Linked DNA regions of Homo sapiens. The protein of the gene in region 2 interacts with the protein of the main gene of each other region in a pairwise test. Each region holds a gene or a part of one and is shown on either strand. Other genes may lie near its edges.

The links.
Region 1: the proteins of MTERF3 (region 2) and SCAMP1 interact in binary tests that used the Homo sapiens proteins (3 or more experiments, as listed by UniProt).

Annotation. Positions count from the first base shown.
Region 1 is NC_000005.10:78,475,034-78,482,333, forward strand, and holds the end of SCAMP1 (secretory carrier-associated membrane protein 1), read left to right. Parts: intron 1-470; coding exon 471-635; 3' UTR 636-5,706; downstream 5,707-7,300. UniProt on the Homo sapiens protein: Functions in post-Golgi recycling pathways. Acts as a recycling carrier to the cell surface.
Region 2 is NC_000008.11:96,250,908-96,259,584, forward strand, and holds part of MTERF3 (transcription termination factor 3, mitochondrial isoform 1 precursor), read right to left. Parts: intron 7,794-8,677; 5' UTR 7,784-7,793; coding exon 7,450-7,783; exon of another isoform or gene 7,315-7,449; coding exon of another isoform or gene 7,285-7,314; intron 6,208-7,284; coding exon 6,055-6,207; intron 189-6,054; coding exon 1-188.

The sequences.
Region 1 (7,300 bases), on a different chromosome or scaffold from region 2:
ATTAAATGATAAAATGATCTCATTTGATTATAACAGGGCCTGTGGTGTATATGTAGATAAAATGGAAATAGATAAGGTACTGTTCTCTCTGAATAGTCTGGGGTAATAAATTAATGTATTGTTTCTTGTTATTATGTTTAAACCATTTCATTGTAATGCTGTAATAATTTCACTTGACTAATTGGGTGCAGAGGAAAATACAACTTTTTGAAGTTGGCTAAGAAGTTCTTTATTTTTGGTTTAAATTAGCATAATTATCTCTTCTGCTTGGAGAAGAAAAGGAAAACCTATATTAAGAAAATGTTTAAATACAATTATTGTGTGTCAGTTTGGTGGCTAATATTCTTGATCTTAGGAATCATGACTACAATCTAGTATTTTTATGTTTGATTAATGTTGAGATTAAGAGCTGCTGGAAATGAATGCGTAGGTTGCTACTTACCTTCTCCCACTTTTTTGTGCCTCTGTAGGTACATGGACTATATCGCACAACAGGTGCTAGTTTTGAGAAGGCCCAACAGGAGTTTGCAACAGGTGTGATGTCCAACAAAACTGTCCAGACCGCAGCTGCAAATGCAGCTTCAACTGCAGCATCTAGTGCAGCTCAGAATGCTTTCAAGGGTAACCAGATTTAAGAATCTTCAAACAATACACTGTTACCTTTTGACTGTACCTTTTTCTCCAGTTACTGTATTCTACAAATATTTTTATGTTCAAAACACACAGTACAGACAGCATGGATATTTCCTGTTCACTTGTGCATGGGCTAAAACCAGGAAAACTTCCTTGTCTTATTACTTTACCTAATAGTTTCTTAATATTTCAGTGCCCCTTGCAGAAAAAATATTACATGCTAAATAAATATTCTCCATATTTTTGGGGGATGACATTCAGTGAATTATTTCAGTGGTGACCCACTGAAAATTAATAATGGTACTTATGATTAAAAACGCATTTAATACTAACTGCAGTAGTTCTTTCAAGAATCTTTAGAGATAAGGATTGCACATTGGAAAAGTAAACCATGTTTCATTCCTTTTTCCCTATTTATATTGAAAGAAATAGGCCAGCAGAGACTTAGGGATTTTAAATTGGCTTGCTTTTTAGCTGTTTCAGTCACCAGTGAAGAGCCTATGTGCATTTTGTAGTAGATAATGTAAAATTTGTCATCTTTTTCTTTTCTTTTTTTTAGAATAGCTGATATTTTGATAACAATCTCTAATTTGCATGGGCACCACATTTCTTATATTAAAAGAATTAGTGTTTTGGCTTCTGTACTGCTTATGGTTGTAGGATTCAGGGGTTAATGGAATCACAGAAATGATATTCTGCAAGAATTTCTTTTAAATAAAAAGTTTGGGGGTGCAATATAAGAAGTTTATATAATATGCAGTACATTATCCAAAAGAGAAGGTAGTTAATGCAGTAGAAAGTAGTGGTAATAATTCCTTTTTAAAAAAATTTCGGTAGTCATATAGTAACATTTTGCTATATGAAAACTTTGGTATATTCTGTGGTTACAACTAAGATTGTGTCTGGCAGCTCTTTTTTGGGGATGTGTGTGTGTGATTTTTAACAGAGGTATTAAAGGCTAGCCTAACTGTTGTCTAAAAAGATTGTACAGTATTTAAGGGATTTTCCTTTTAGCTTTTCATCTCCAGTGGCATTAAACATAAAAAGACCCTGGCATTTTTTCACATACTTGAATCCCTAAATGCACCTGTCTTTCACTTTTTGAGACAGACTGAATATATCTAAAATTTCCAGCAATAAAAAAAAAAGCATTTAACTTGCACCAAGCAAGAAAATATAAATACAGTTAACTGCATTAAGATAATCACGTTAAAATTGTTACTATGCAGCACAGAACTTCATTCTTATAGTATTCTTGGGTTCAACCTTTGAATCAATTTTACCACTGATTAAATAAATGACTCAAAGACATCTGTAAGTCATGCTGCTGTGTTTTGAAAGTCTTTAACTAAATTAAGATTGCAGAATGATAGTGATTATTCAATTAGATTTTAAGTAAGGATTGTGATATTAGAGGCTGGAAATCCTTATTTTTTAAAAAATCAGATAGGCATAAATAGTTAAATCACTTTCATTCTCCCCAAACCTGTAGTTACAGAAAAAGTTTTATGCTAGAGGTGGGATGCCAAGTTTTCACTATCCATGAAGCAGCGCTGCATGTCACTAGGTAACACAGATCCATCCAGATGGTGTTTACATTTGATTTATTTGGGATCTTATTGACATCAGGTATACTTGGAAGACATTTCTTTTATTCTTCAGCGTATGAATTTAAAGCTATTTTTTGTAAATATTTCTAATCAGCGATAATTTCTACCTATGTTCTCAACCAACTTAGCCAGTTTGTTTTTCAGAGCCTGTAGTCTTATTGGAAATCTATTTTATCAGTGTGCTTTATTGAGTGTGGATTTTGCATACATTCAAAACATTAACCACAAAATACAGCAAGTGCACCTATATTCACCATTAACTTATATCCCAAGTCCATTTTTTCCTGTACACTACAAACAAAAGATATATTAGAGACTTTTGAAAAATGCTGAAATACTTTGCTTCAGAATTGGAATGTTTATATTATGTAGAAATCTTCAAAGGTAGCATTATTAAATAGCAAAGAATAATTAGAACCCACATATCTTTTTTTGTGTGGATGGGGAAAATGTTTTAAAATCCAGTTATTTAATATGAGTTTGAGAGAGAAAATTGTTTTTTAAAAATATATGTGCATTGAAATGATGGCAATGCTTATAGTATGATCAAGTATGAAAGGAACTTTAAATTCTTATATTTACTTTTCTCTCAGTAAATTGTTAAATTTTCACTCAGCAAAAGATTGGCATTTGTTAAGTGTTCTATATTTAGTACTAAAATCACAGTCATGAAATCATAGTCATAAAATGGTCTTCACACAGCAGTCATCCGTGTCATTTATCATTTTGTAATATTAAATTATGGCAATTTTATTTCAAACTAAAGTTTGAACACCGGAAAGTCATTACTCAGTGATTTGTAATTTGGGACTTGGATTATTTATCTAGAGATGTTTGTATATTTTGTCAGTAACTAATACTGCGCTGCCATCATGGTGACTGTCATGGTTCTACAGAAATGCCCTCCATGTGTCCCTCTAATGTTGCATGTTTCAGTGGGTTGGAAGTTTTGTATATTTATTGTATTAACACAGAGTGTCATAAAATAAAATGCTGTTTACTGGATGTTTGTTTGTATAATTTTGAACACTATAATAGCAATTCAGAGACAGACATTGTTAAAGGTTTGATGTATATAGAAATTCCATGTTTGATTTTTTAAAATATGTGTATAAGTCTGTCATGTGCTAAACAAAATAATATGAAAGACCTAGTTAAAAATTCTAACCAATGTAAAATGACCATTTTTCTGTTGCATTAGACCTTTACAGGTAATGGAACATGAGCTTCACCCATATTAAATATTTTGGCCCCTTTAAGGTCAAAATACAGATCATCTAGAAGTTAGATTCAAAATGGAAAACCTATTCATGGCTCAGATTTTTCATTGTGGGTTAAAAATGGGTGTCTCTGTACTAGTATTGTATTTATTCAATTGAACTTGTATTCTGATTTCTATCCTTGCTACCTATTGCTGTTTTATGTACTGATGAAAGTACCTATTTGTGTATATTGGATTTTTCACTTGGTTAGCTAAAGAAGATGTAAAAATATCTAAAATAATGTTCATGGTGAATCTTATTTTGAGAAATACATGTTAAAAAAGGAACAGTATTCTTTATTTTCTGGGTGTTATATTTAAAAAAGCAAGTTTGGATTTTTACACCTAATTTACTAGGAAAATATTTTATTCTGTAATTCATGTTAAGATTATGTATGGTTTGCATTTTAAGGGGATTTATGTTAGGTTAATTAGTTGTTTCTGTAAATCATTTGTAATAGCATAGTGCTTTTTACTCATTGCTGTATCTTTTTCTGAAAACACTGTTGTTAACATCTAATTCAGTATCCTTATTGGTACAAATCTGTGTTTGGCATGACTGTTTATATACAGAATTTGTTACATTTTGAGCATTTTTTCCCCTGCTTATGTATACCTTAGAGTTACCATGGCTGTCATATACCATTTCACTATATCTCCTTTCAGTTTTTCCTTAAGGAAAATGTTTAGAGGAATTTGTTCATTTCATGTGATTAAGCCCTTTAGAGATGAAATAAGATTGGTTAATTTTAAAAAAATTGAGGATGGTTAAAAAATAGAAAACACCTTACTTTGATACATTTTAAAGTACAATAGTATACATTTATTTAGAGTAGACTAATGTGTTTAAAACATGAGTTGTTTTAAATACTTTTTTATTGAGCTAAAAAGTTTTATCTCACATATTAAGTATTACAGAAAGTGAAGTATTTTGGCTAGAATTTTAGGGCATATTTTATAAAGCAGCATGCCTGTAATATTGGTGGGTATTTTTAAACTTTAGGACTTTATCACAGTATGTAGAGAGCTAGAAATAAATCTAGAAACTTTCTAAGCCAGGTATTGCCACTAACCTGTCTTATATAAGCAGATACCTCTTATTTGAAGATTGTAGGAAAATAGAGAAAGACTGTTCTCCAGTTTTCTCACCCCCGCTGTGGGTTTTATATTTACAATTTAACTTTGGGGTTTGGGTAAGACAAACATTTAATGTATAGGATTTTGGCCAGGTGTGGTGGCTCACGCCTGTAATCCCAGCACTTTGGGAGGCCAAGGTGGGCGGATCACGAGGTCAGGAGATCGAAACCATCCTGGCTAACATGGTGAAACCCCATCTCTACTAAAAATACAAAAAAAAAATTAGCTGAGCATGGTGGCGGGCGCCTGTAGTCCCAGCTACTTGGGAGGCTGAGGCAGGAGAATGACGTGAACCTGGGAGGCGGAGCTTGCAGTGAGCCGAGATCTCTCCACTGCACTCCAGCCTGGGCGACAGAGCGAGACTCCATCTCAAGAAAAAAAAAAAAGAATTTTCATTAGTGCTGGCCGTGTTTCAAATGGCAAGGGAACATGGGAACTATCATGTGGCAATGTAGTGAGTGTTAAACTTTGTGTTTGTCCAAATCCTGATTTATTTTTCAGTTCATATCTTTCTGGGCTTGACATGGCTGATGGTGTAGCTGAAACCCTCCTAACACTAAAAGCCATTTAATCTTTTCTGTAATAGGAGCAGAAAATAGTTAATCATCCACCTAGTAATATAAGATTACTGTGAATATTATCTTCTATACATTAAAACAGTTCTAGTTTGTAGAATAATACCATACAAGTTTTATTTTTAAATTCTAGTTATTTTCAGTGCTTACTTAAATGTAATTCTAGAATTCCTCCACAACTTTTAATATTTTGTATGCCAGTGATTCTCAAGATAAATCATGATTGTAGTAGTTGTTACTGTTGGCAGTTTGTAGTAGTATTCAGGTATTTTGGGGATGGGGGAAAACACCAAAAATCAGTGTCTTTTATCTGGTGATCACTGTGGTATCTACAGTATTCTAGTCTCCTGCACAAAAACTGAACCCACTGGGCCTATGCATCCCTCACACTTTTTTTCTAGTATAAAAGCAATACATAATGTGTTGTAGAACAATTAAAAATTCAGAAAGTGATACATGAGAAAATAAAAATAAATCCTTAATTCTGTCATCTTGGGGTACCTCTGCTAATATTTTATTGTCTTCCATTCTTTTTCTATGCATATGTGTTTTGTTTAGTTAAGAGATATAAGCAATATGGATTTTTAAAAACCTTATTTTCCCCTCACTTAGCTTTATGTCATAATGGCGCAATAGTTTAGTTTTTTAAATTAACTTTTTTAATTTATAAAATTAATGTATATTTCAGTATAAATTATAGAAAATATAAGCAAAAGAAATAACCAAAATTCTCATAATTTTACATCCATGAATAACTTCTATTAAAATCTGGTTTATATCTTTCTATTTTTCTAGGAAGACAACTTCCTAATATTAAAAATGAGATGACCCCGTACATCCTTGTACATCCTTTAGGGATGTCTACCTACTCCTCAAAAGCCCCACTTCTTTGGGTCCTTAAAGTCCACATTGGTACTGGATGTCATCTGGCCATAGTGGACTCATTCCTGGCTTATCAGTTTTTTATTCTGAATGTAGATATGTCTAGAACTCTACTGTTCCAGAATTGGAACATAAGAGGTAGCCATTTTCTGCCATGAGGAAGGAATCACCAAGAAAGCTGGTCTGCAATGAAAATGAAGAATGAAACAGACATAACAGGAGATGTAAAATGAATGACATAGAAAAGATCTTAGTGGCTTTCCTTTTCCTTTATGGAGCCCTACTTCTCACCCTTATCCCATTATCCTCATAATCTTACCGCTTTTTCTCCCTCAACTATCTTGAATTGGTTTCTTATTACTTTTAACTGGAGGATCTTAACACAACAGTTTATCTTATTTCAGTTATGATATAAATATGTATTGAAGATTTTAATATCTCTGAATATATTTCTGTAACATTTAGTATAGCTATATAGCTAACATCATATGTATGTATCATAAAGTCTTGTTATTCCTTTAGGTTCTGATTTTCAGGGTTTTAAAGTTATAAATAATTTATCAAGGAATATATTGTTGCTAAATTTGGGGACTCGGGCTTTTGTTTTTTCTTTAGGACAGATTGCTGAGTTAAAGGGTATTATGCATAGTTTTTAAAGCACCTTTCATGTGCTTTGCCAAGTTGCTCTCCAGAAAAATTTTATCCATATGTAACTCCATCAGCAATGTACGGAAAGGCCTCTTTCTTCACATCCTTGGCCAGCATTGGATGTTCCTTTTCTAAAAAGTCTTTTATCCCAATAGATTTTGACAAATCAGGTTTCTTTTCTGAGCATTCTGGTTTCACATGGCTTATGTGCTCACCCAATGCTACCGGTTTGTTTGTTTGTTTTTGTTTTTGCTAAATAGGAGTAACTGAGTACCCTGCATCCACTGAGAAATCTTCTGCTTCCTGAAAGCTCTAAGGTAAAGATAATTAGCTGAATGCTCTGTTATAACAGGATGGAAAAAGAAATGGTGGCCTCAGGTAGCCAATCCACTGAGTCTCTCCAGGTAAAATTACACTGGTTTCGACAAGTTATGTTACCTTTCATAGAATGTAATTTTAAAATGATATTAGTCTGGGTGGGTAGTATTTTCTTAGTTTTTTTCTAATAATAGCTTATTGTGGGCTTAATTATATACCAGTGTTCTGTACTAAAT
Region 2 (8,677 bases):
GGTCTTCAGATTTTCAAGGTCTTCAGAGAAAATTGCATGATTTTTTGTCAGGAATGCTCCCAGTTGGTTATCCTCTATACCCACATCTTTAAGAAACAGAAGCATTTGCTTAATGTCTTTTTCAAAATCCAGTCTCAGAAGGAGGTTTGCTGCTTCTGGATGTTTTTCTATCTTGGACAAATCCACGCCTATAATAAATTATAAATACTGTTTGAAGATGACTTCTTAGTTCACCCATTAAACTCATATACATAAGCACAAGAAATTACTGATGGAGATCAACACCTATCCAAAGGAGCACTGAGATAGATCAATAGAAACTTCTAAATATTTTTAAACTAAGTTGGTTGCAGAAACAACATAGTATTTATTTTAAAAATCAAGTACAGAGGAAAATAGAGCATTTAGTGCTACATTTCCCCCCAAAACAAATTCACTAAGTCATATTGGTGTAGGGTCATCATCTTTGTCTAAGGTTTCTTGAATATTGTTTCAGAATGTTTGTCAGTCCCAGATGAACCCCACAGTAACTGGTAATTCTGCAGGGTAACAAACAATATGAATAAAATGTTACCTTCTTTGAAGATTTTATTTTTCCTTAGTTATAAGCATTATTTAAAAAATATGTTTATGATTCCCATCATAGGGGGAATAAAAATGACCCTGTGCCTTACTCATCGTTGTAATCTCTAGGTCTTTAGCACGGAGACACGTCCCTTGAAGAAACTCAAGAAATGTCTGAGTGAGAACAAGTGAACACATAGCCCTTCAAGTATACAACAAAGCAGAAAGTATACAACCTTAAACCTCCACATTTAAAACTTCTTAATGGCATCACACAGTCAAAAAAAAATCGTCATATTCATTATAACTCCAAATATTATTAGAACCAAATATAATTATAAATCCAAATTTCTTGATATTAAACAGGTATTAAGATGCCCATGAACAGTAAAATAGATTAAATACACAGACACAATGATATGGTTAGGCTGTGTCCCCACCCAAATCTCATCTTGAATCCCCATGTGTCGTGGGAGGGACCAGGTGGGAGGTAACTGAATCATGGGGAGAAGTCTTTGCTGTGCTGTTGTGTGATACTGAATAAGTCTCACGAGATCTGATGGTTTTAAAAAGGGGGGTTTCCAGGCACAAGCTCCCTTCTCTTGGCTGCTGCCACGTGAGACGTGCCTTTCACCTTCTGCCATAATTGTGAGGCCTCCCCAGCCATATGGAACTGTAAGTCCATTAAACCTCTTCCTTTTGTAAATTGCCCAGTCTCGGGTATGTCTTTATCAGCAGTGTGAAAACAGAATAATACGCACACTCAATGAAGATGAGAAACAGATCCAGAATAAACTAAAAAATGTTATTATACAAACAATAATGCATTTCAAATCAAATAGATAGACTATTTGTTAAAATATATGGGACCATTAGCTATACTTTTGAAAAAAATTATCTTTATATCTTATACGGAAATTAATTCTAGATAAAGAATCTAAACATACATTAACTCTACTAGAAAAACAAAAAAAATTACGTTTAACTACAGAATAGTATAAAACCTAGTGTAGAAAAAGGTCTGGAAAGCTATTCCACAATTTGGTTAATAGTGGTTACCTTTGAGAAGTGGAACTGGGGACGAAGAGAGGGTAAGAGGTCCTTCTCTTATAATATCTGCACTTTTGACAACCGGATGTAATTCTTTTGTAATTTAAAAATAATATTAGTAGAAAAATAAATCCAATTATTAGATGGACAAATAAATAAGATGAAAACCAGTTCCAAAAATCTGTGATAAATGGGGGAGCGGATGCTCTAAAAATAACATAAAGGGTTCAGACTTCACATTTAACTAAATATTACAGCTGACATGAACTGAAGTGCTTTGCTCAGCATGAGCTGTCACACCCTGACTGTGCTCGAACAGAAATCCTGAAAAGCTGCTTTTTAACAGCAGTAGGAGAGCAGAATCTCATCAGGAATGCACACTGCTCTCAATGCAAATAACTTGGGCTCACTTCATTTCATTAACTTGAAAAAATATTCCCTGAATGCCCACTATGGACCAGGCACTTTTTTAGGTATTGGGGTTATAAAAAAAGAATAATACACGATTCTAACCTCTAGGTGACCAGTCTAGTTGGGCTTTACCTCATCAGTTCAGTAATTACGAATATTACCATTTTATTCAGTTATGGTTACACGTATTTAGTACATCAATCAGGGTCTAGCAGGCTATACAACGTGCCCTGGAAAGTACAAATGACAAGGACTTTAATGAAGGGACTCTATACAGCGGTGTGAGCAGCCTTAAGAGAACAAACAAGAGCCTTCCCAACAATAAAGAGACAAGGAGGCAAAATGTTACCACGGCGCAGAGGGACTAGAGGCTATTAAGGAAGGGCTGCTCAAGAGTGCTGTTGTCATGGAGTGAGGCAGGTACAGGACCCAAAGAAGGGAAGGAACGGGAAAAATATCCCCACCTGACCCTTCTACCTTCTGTCCTGTAGGTGCCTCCCACTGGCTGAAGCTGCCAAGAAGCCAGCTGGCATAGGAGCCCTGGTGCATAGGGGTTGGCCTCCTGGGATACAGATCGGGCAGAAAACAGGTCTCAGAAGCAAACAGAGAAAAAACTAGGACTTGGGTACTCAAAAATACTGTCTGACAGAGCAAATAAGGCTCCCCTAAGTTACTATTATTTAAGTTACTTCTAAGACATGCTGTTGAAGTATCAGCATACAGGTAAAGGAATGGCTGAAACATATTCCAAACCTGTAAGTATACTGTAAATTATTTAAAGATAAGGACTAGGCCAGGCACGGTGGCTCATGCCTGTTATCCCAGCACTTTGGAAAGCCGAGGTGGGAGGAAAGCTTGAGCCCAAGAGTTTGAGACCAGCCTGGGCAACACAGTGAGACCTCCCTCTATTTAAAAAAAAAAAAAAAAAAATTAGCCCAGATGGCATGTGCCTATAGTCCCAGCTACTTGCGGGGCTGAGGTGGGAGGATCACTTGAGCCCAGGAGGTCAAGGCTGCAATGAGACAAGACTGTGTCACTGCACTCCAGCCTGGGTGACAGAGCAAGACCCTGTGTCAAAAAAAAGATAAGACAGGGACTGTGTCTTAGGTTTTATCTTGTATCATCCATAGCACCTGCCATAAGACAGGGAAAGCTGTTTCGAAAGGAAAAGTGACTGTCTCCTCACAGCAGACATCATCTTTTTCCTGCCTCTGAATGTACACTTTTTAAATTATATGTTTATGGGATACAACATGCTGTTTTGACATTTGTATACATAGTGGAACGATTAAATCAAGCTAATTAACATATTCATTACCTTACATATTCATGACTTTTTTTTGTGGTGAGAACACTTAAAATCTACTCTCTTAACAATTTTCAAGTATACATTATTATTAACTACCATCATCATGCTGGACAATAGATCTCCAAAACTTATGCCACCTGTCTAATTGAAACTTTGTACCCTTTGCCCAACAACTCCCCATTCCTCCCCACCCCACTCCCCAGCTCCCTCTGCTCCTATGAGTTCAACTTTTTTAGCTTTCATATATAAGTGAGATCACGTAGCATTAGTCATTCTGTGCTTATTTCACTTAGCATAGCATCCTCCAGGTTCATCCGTGTTGTTGCAAATAACAGGATCTCCTTTTTCAAGGCTGACTAGTACTCCAGTGTATAAATATACCACATTTTCTTTAGCCATTCATCCACTGATGGACACTTAGGCTGATTCACAGAACACTTTATTTGCCTCTCATGTGGGACTTATCACTTTGCTCTTCATCCTTGCATTCCAGTTATTCTTATATATTTAGATGTTTCTGAGGACTTGAAGCTTCTTGAGAACAAAGGCCATTCTAAACATATGGGTAACATATGGGTAACTGGGCACAGACAGATGAGTATACAATTATAATAGAGTGTCATTAATGCTAGGATCCAAGTAAGCAGGGAGTGAAATGAGAGCCTGAAGAGGGTCACTCTGTCTGCAGGGTCAAGAAGACACTTTAGAAGTTACTTGGACTTCAGTGATGTTCTCCAGTTGTTGGAGTTGGCTAAACAAAGGAGGGAAGTGGCAAGCCATGAAGCTGAACAGGTAAGCAGAAGCCAAATCAGGAAAAGCTTTGATGCCATGGGAAGGTTTTGAAGGATTTTAAATAGGTCACTGACTTAGATCTGCATTTCAGAAAGAGCACTAACACTGGAAAGATATCAGAGCCAATACTGCTGAGGAGAAGACTATCAAGATAGGAGGCTCCTGCAGCCACTCAGTGACAAATGAGGACCTAAACAAGGTAGTGACTGTAGGATGAGAGAAGTGGATGGATTTGAAAGAAATAGAGAGGGTAGAATCCATAGGATAAGCTATTAAATTAGATGTAAAGAGGAAGGGGACAAAAGCAATAAGAATCAAGGATAGGCCGAGTGCGGTGGCTCATGCCTATAATCTCAGTACTTTGGGAGGCCGAGGTGGACAGATCCCTTGAGGCCAAGAGTTCAAGATCAGCCTGGCCAACAGGGTGAAACCTCGTCTCTACTAAAAATACAAAAAATAGCCAGGCATGGTGGCACGTGCTTGTAATCTCAGCTACCAGGGAGGCTGAGGCAGGAGAATCACTTGAACCTGGGAGGCAGGTTGCAGTGAGCTGAGATGGTACCACTGTACTCCAGCCTGGGAGACAGAGTGAGACCCAGTCTGAAGAAAAAAAAAAAAAAAAAAATCAAGGATGACCCCCAAAGTTTCTAACAGAGCACAGATTTTTCTCTTTTTCCTCTCCTGTTAAAAATCACCTCCCAAAAATATGGGGAATGACAAACAAAAAATGAGATCCTTCTTTGAGGAAACGAGATTATATCCCCACATATCTGAAAACATCTGAAAACAGATGAAAGCATGGCAACAGCCTTATCGGAGAGGAGAAAGACGACACTGAAATGCCTGCAAATGAGAATCTGGCAAGTGGTAAGTGATCAGTACCACAAAAAACTCAAAAGTCTCCAAAATTGGAGTCCCTAGAAATCTGAGAGATTAGAGGTGAGGTACAGACTAAAAACTGGGGTATTGGGTATGGAGAGACCCGACCTCCCCCAAATCCAGTTCCTCTCAATGCACTAGGAGAAAGGAGATTCATTATCTGGGAAAATCAAGTATGAGAAGTACCAAACCCAGAGAAATGAGGAAAGCAAAAGTTTGTAATAAAATGCCAGACTAAAAATAAGATGACTAAATGAAAGTTTGGACGGAGATCCCCTGGCTCCCTTAAGCTATCCAGATCCAAGTGCAACCTAATGGTCAACAAGTGAAGGCAGCTATAGAGTAGGCCTAGAAACCATTCAAATCAGGAGGACAGTGGCTTCAGGAAGGAGGTCGGGGTAGTGTGACAAGCAGGGAACAATCCACTCTGGAGAAATGAAATACATCATCTGATAGGGTTACCTGGGAAAAACTGTCCTGAGAGGCTACTGGAAGGTATGGAAAAGTTTAACCCCAGAAACAAACAAACAAACAAAACAATTCATCAAATGAAGAACAAGGCAACTATTACTGCCGGAAAAATGAAAAGTTGTACAGGAAGGTAAATAATGATAGCATACTTCTTGTTAGGGCAGATAGCAATATTTATAGTCATAATTTAACTACTGACTAATGATTTATCTAAAATTGTAATTTATATTAGGAGAATTGAAAAGAATACAGGAAAAGTACATGTGTACATACAAGAGATCAAATGATGTCTAAAACTGATGAACCAAACAACAGCACTACAAACAACTATTTTAAAATGAGGAGGTTGAACACAAACAGAAAGAATGATACAAGTTAAGTAGATGCATCTGGGGAATAGGATGCAAGATCACCAAGGATGAGGCAGGGAATACGGTTTCTCACTAGAAGCCTTTATGCTATTAGACTTTTGCTTATGTTTGTATACTACTTAGTATAGATTAAATTGTTAATTTAAAAAAGTAAAAAAAGTAATGAAGAGTACATGCAAAAAGTACTTGTAGTTTAGTCAAACTTACCTAGAAGAACCAACTTCTGCAGAGTCTCAGAATGATCCACATAGTCTCGAAGTGTGAATGAAGCTGGTGGCAATGGAGGGTCTGCAATAATCTGAATAGCCTCTTCCTCTGAAATTGGCTGCATTGGAGACAATGGAGGCAATTCATCCAGTTCTTTGAAAGAGAGAAACAAATTAGTGCTCTAATATGCACACTTAAAACTATTTCTGCAAAGACCAGCTCTTCCCTTGTTTGCTTCTTTCAGTGGTTAAATCTTGGGATCATTTTAGAATTAAACATCCAAGTCCCTAATTTTTCACCTTTTAAGAGGTAAGGTTACAACTATTTAGACAGACTAACTACTGTTCCTCTGAGATTAGAAATTTGTTGGTAAATTTCAAAGCACACAATGCCTTTCCTTCACTTAATCAGTAGGTGAGAATGCTAAAAATCACCTAACTTTCAAGTGAATTTTGAAACAGAGATTGAGTTTACCATAGCCTGTTAACTTGGCTAAAAGTACACATATGCCAACAGTCTGAATTGCATGGATTAAAGTAATCATATCCCGAAAGTCTTTGTTTTGACCCAATGCCCTCCCTTCCAAGTTACCCTCAAATACATCTTTAAAAGGGCTTCTATGATTGTTTCTACAACCTGCAGTCCTCTCTACAGGAGATGTGACTCTCTAGTACAGCCCTGATTCTGAAGTTGTTTTTGTTTTTTTAAAATCAAACGCAGCATGGAAGACACTTAGAACTACACATTACCTTAAGCTAAGGAATCAGGTCTGTGATCTTTTGTTCTGTTTTGTGCTTCTCATCATTAACTATCCTTTCTCATCATTTATAGCCAGCATCTCCTCCCTGCCCTCTCCCCAGCTCTCTTTCCTTCATATTCTACTTAACCTTATATCATTTCATTACCAGCGAAATATTCCTAGAATAGGACCCATAGGAAGGAGAGGATTGACTAAAAAGCGACCATGAGGGAACTCTGTGGAGTTAATATAATTGTTTTATTTGTTGATTGCAGTAGTTCTTACACACTAAATGCATATGTCAAAATTCATAGAACTATATATCCCACAAGATGAATTTTACTTGATATAATTATACCCTAATAAAACTAATTACCACTAGAAGAATTTTGTTTTAAGAATCTAAACAATAAAATATTTAAAAAGCAAATGTTTTATATGTGTAGCTATAAAATAATCTTACACGTTAGCCCACAAACTTTTTTTCTTACCAGTAAAATAAAGGCATGATAGAAGTTCATCAATAGAACTGGTATTATTCTTTTTCTTTCTTGGCACAAAATATTACCTGAAATGGGCTAGCAGAAGGTAAACAGGTAGCTTGTTCAAATGGCCAAAGTAGGGAAAGGGAGACTTTTCTGAAAGTTCAGAATTACCTTCTAGAAACAGCTCAGAATCAAAGCTGGATATATTTTGTGTCTTCTGTGACTGTTCATTCATGGAAGGAAGCAGACTGCTTTGGGCAGAATTATTCTCCTGACTACTTGAGCTAGTAGACTGGGAACTATTCCATAAGGAGGAAGTCCTGTAAGTCTTAAATCCCCACTGGAGAAAGCAATTGTCAGAGGATATCTGAGGCTGAGCAGAAAAGCCATGTAACAGTGTTCTTGCTGGTCTAGTAAAACGTTTTGTGAGTTGTGCAGCATTAATGAGGCTCCTCAACTTAACTGAGTTAAACCATCTGGGTATCTGTTGGGCTGACAAAGCCATTTTTCTTAGTCTACAAAGGAAAGATATAACCGTCAAAAGAAGAGAAATTTAATTTACTTAAATGTTTAAAACGGTATTCAAACAACAAAAAGATAAACTGGAAATTATTTTTTTCTAATTGAAAGGTGTTTAAATATATATTTAGTCTAAAATAGTGAGATGTTTCTTATGTACAGGAAAAGCCAACAACAAGGCAATCTCAGTTACAAACCAACAGACAGGAACTTCTGAGTGGAAAAATAAAGATATACTTTACAATTTAAAAACAAAATGCAATGACACTGGTGTAAGAAAAATGCTTAAAACAAAAATCTGCAAATGTTCAAGTGACAGCAGACCTCACTAATCTGTTAATTTAATCATTTAAAGAGAATAAGCTGATGCAAATAAGTGTTCTTGAAATTTGGTGTGAAGGGTGTTTCCGCAGCACATTGCTGATCAAAGTAACACTGAATTATTCAAATGCATTTTATGTATATAAATTTGTCCCAAAATGAAAAAACAGAAATCTACTGTGTCCTAAACAAATCATCAAAATATTATCATTGATATACAGAACAGTGAAAGCAGTTTCTTGCTTCATTCTCAGGGCTGAACACTGTTGATTACTTCACAGATAAAGCTGTTCTTCCAAAGGGAATTGAACAAAACCAGTTTTGTCAAGTTTTGTTTCACTGTAGGAAAGGAGAAAAAAGCCTTCAAAAAGAAAAGGTCAAAACTAGTAACAAAACCAAGTGACAGAAATAAATAAGCAACCAGCAATTAATACCTGTATATTTTGACTGAAAAAGTAGTTTTCAAAAATATTTTTATCAGGAAAGGCTAGTGCTATGTTAAACTCCAGGAATATGAAGGGATTTTATATTTAGCCAGCTAATTAGAAAGGTAAATTTG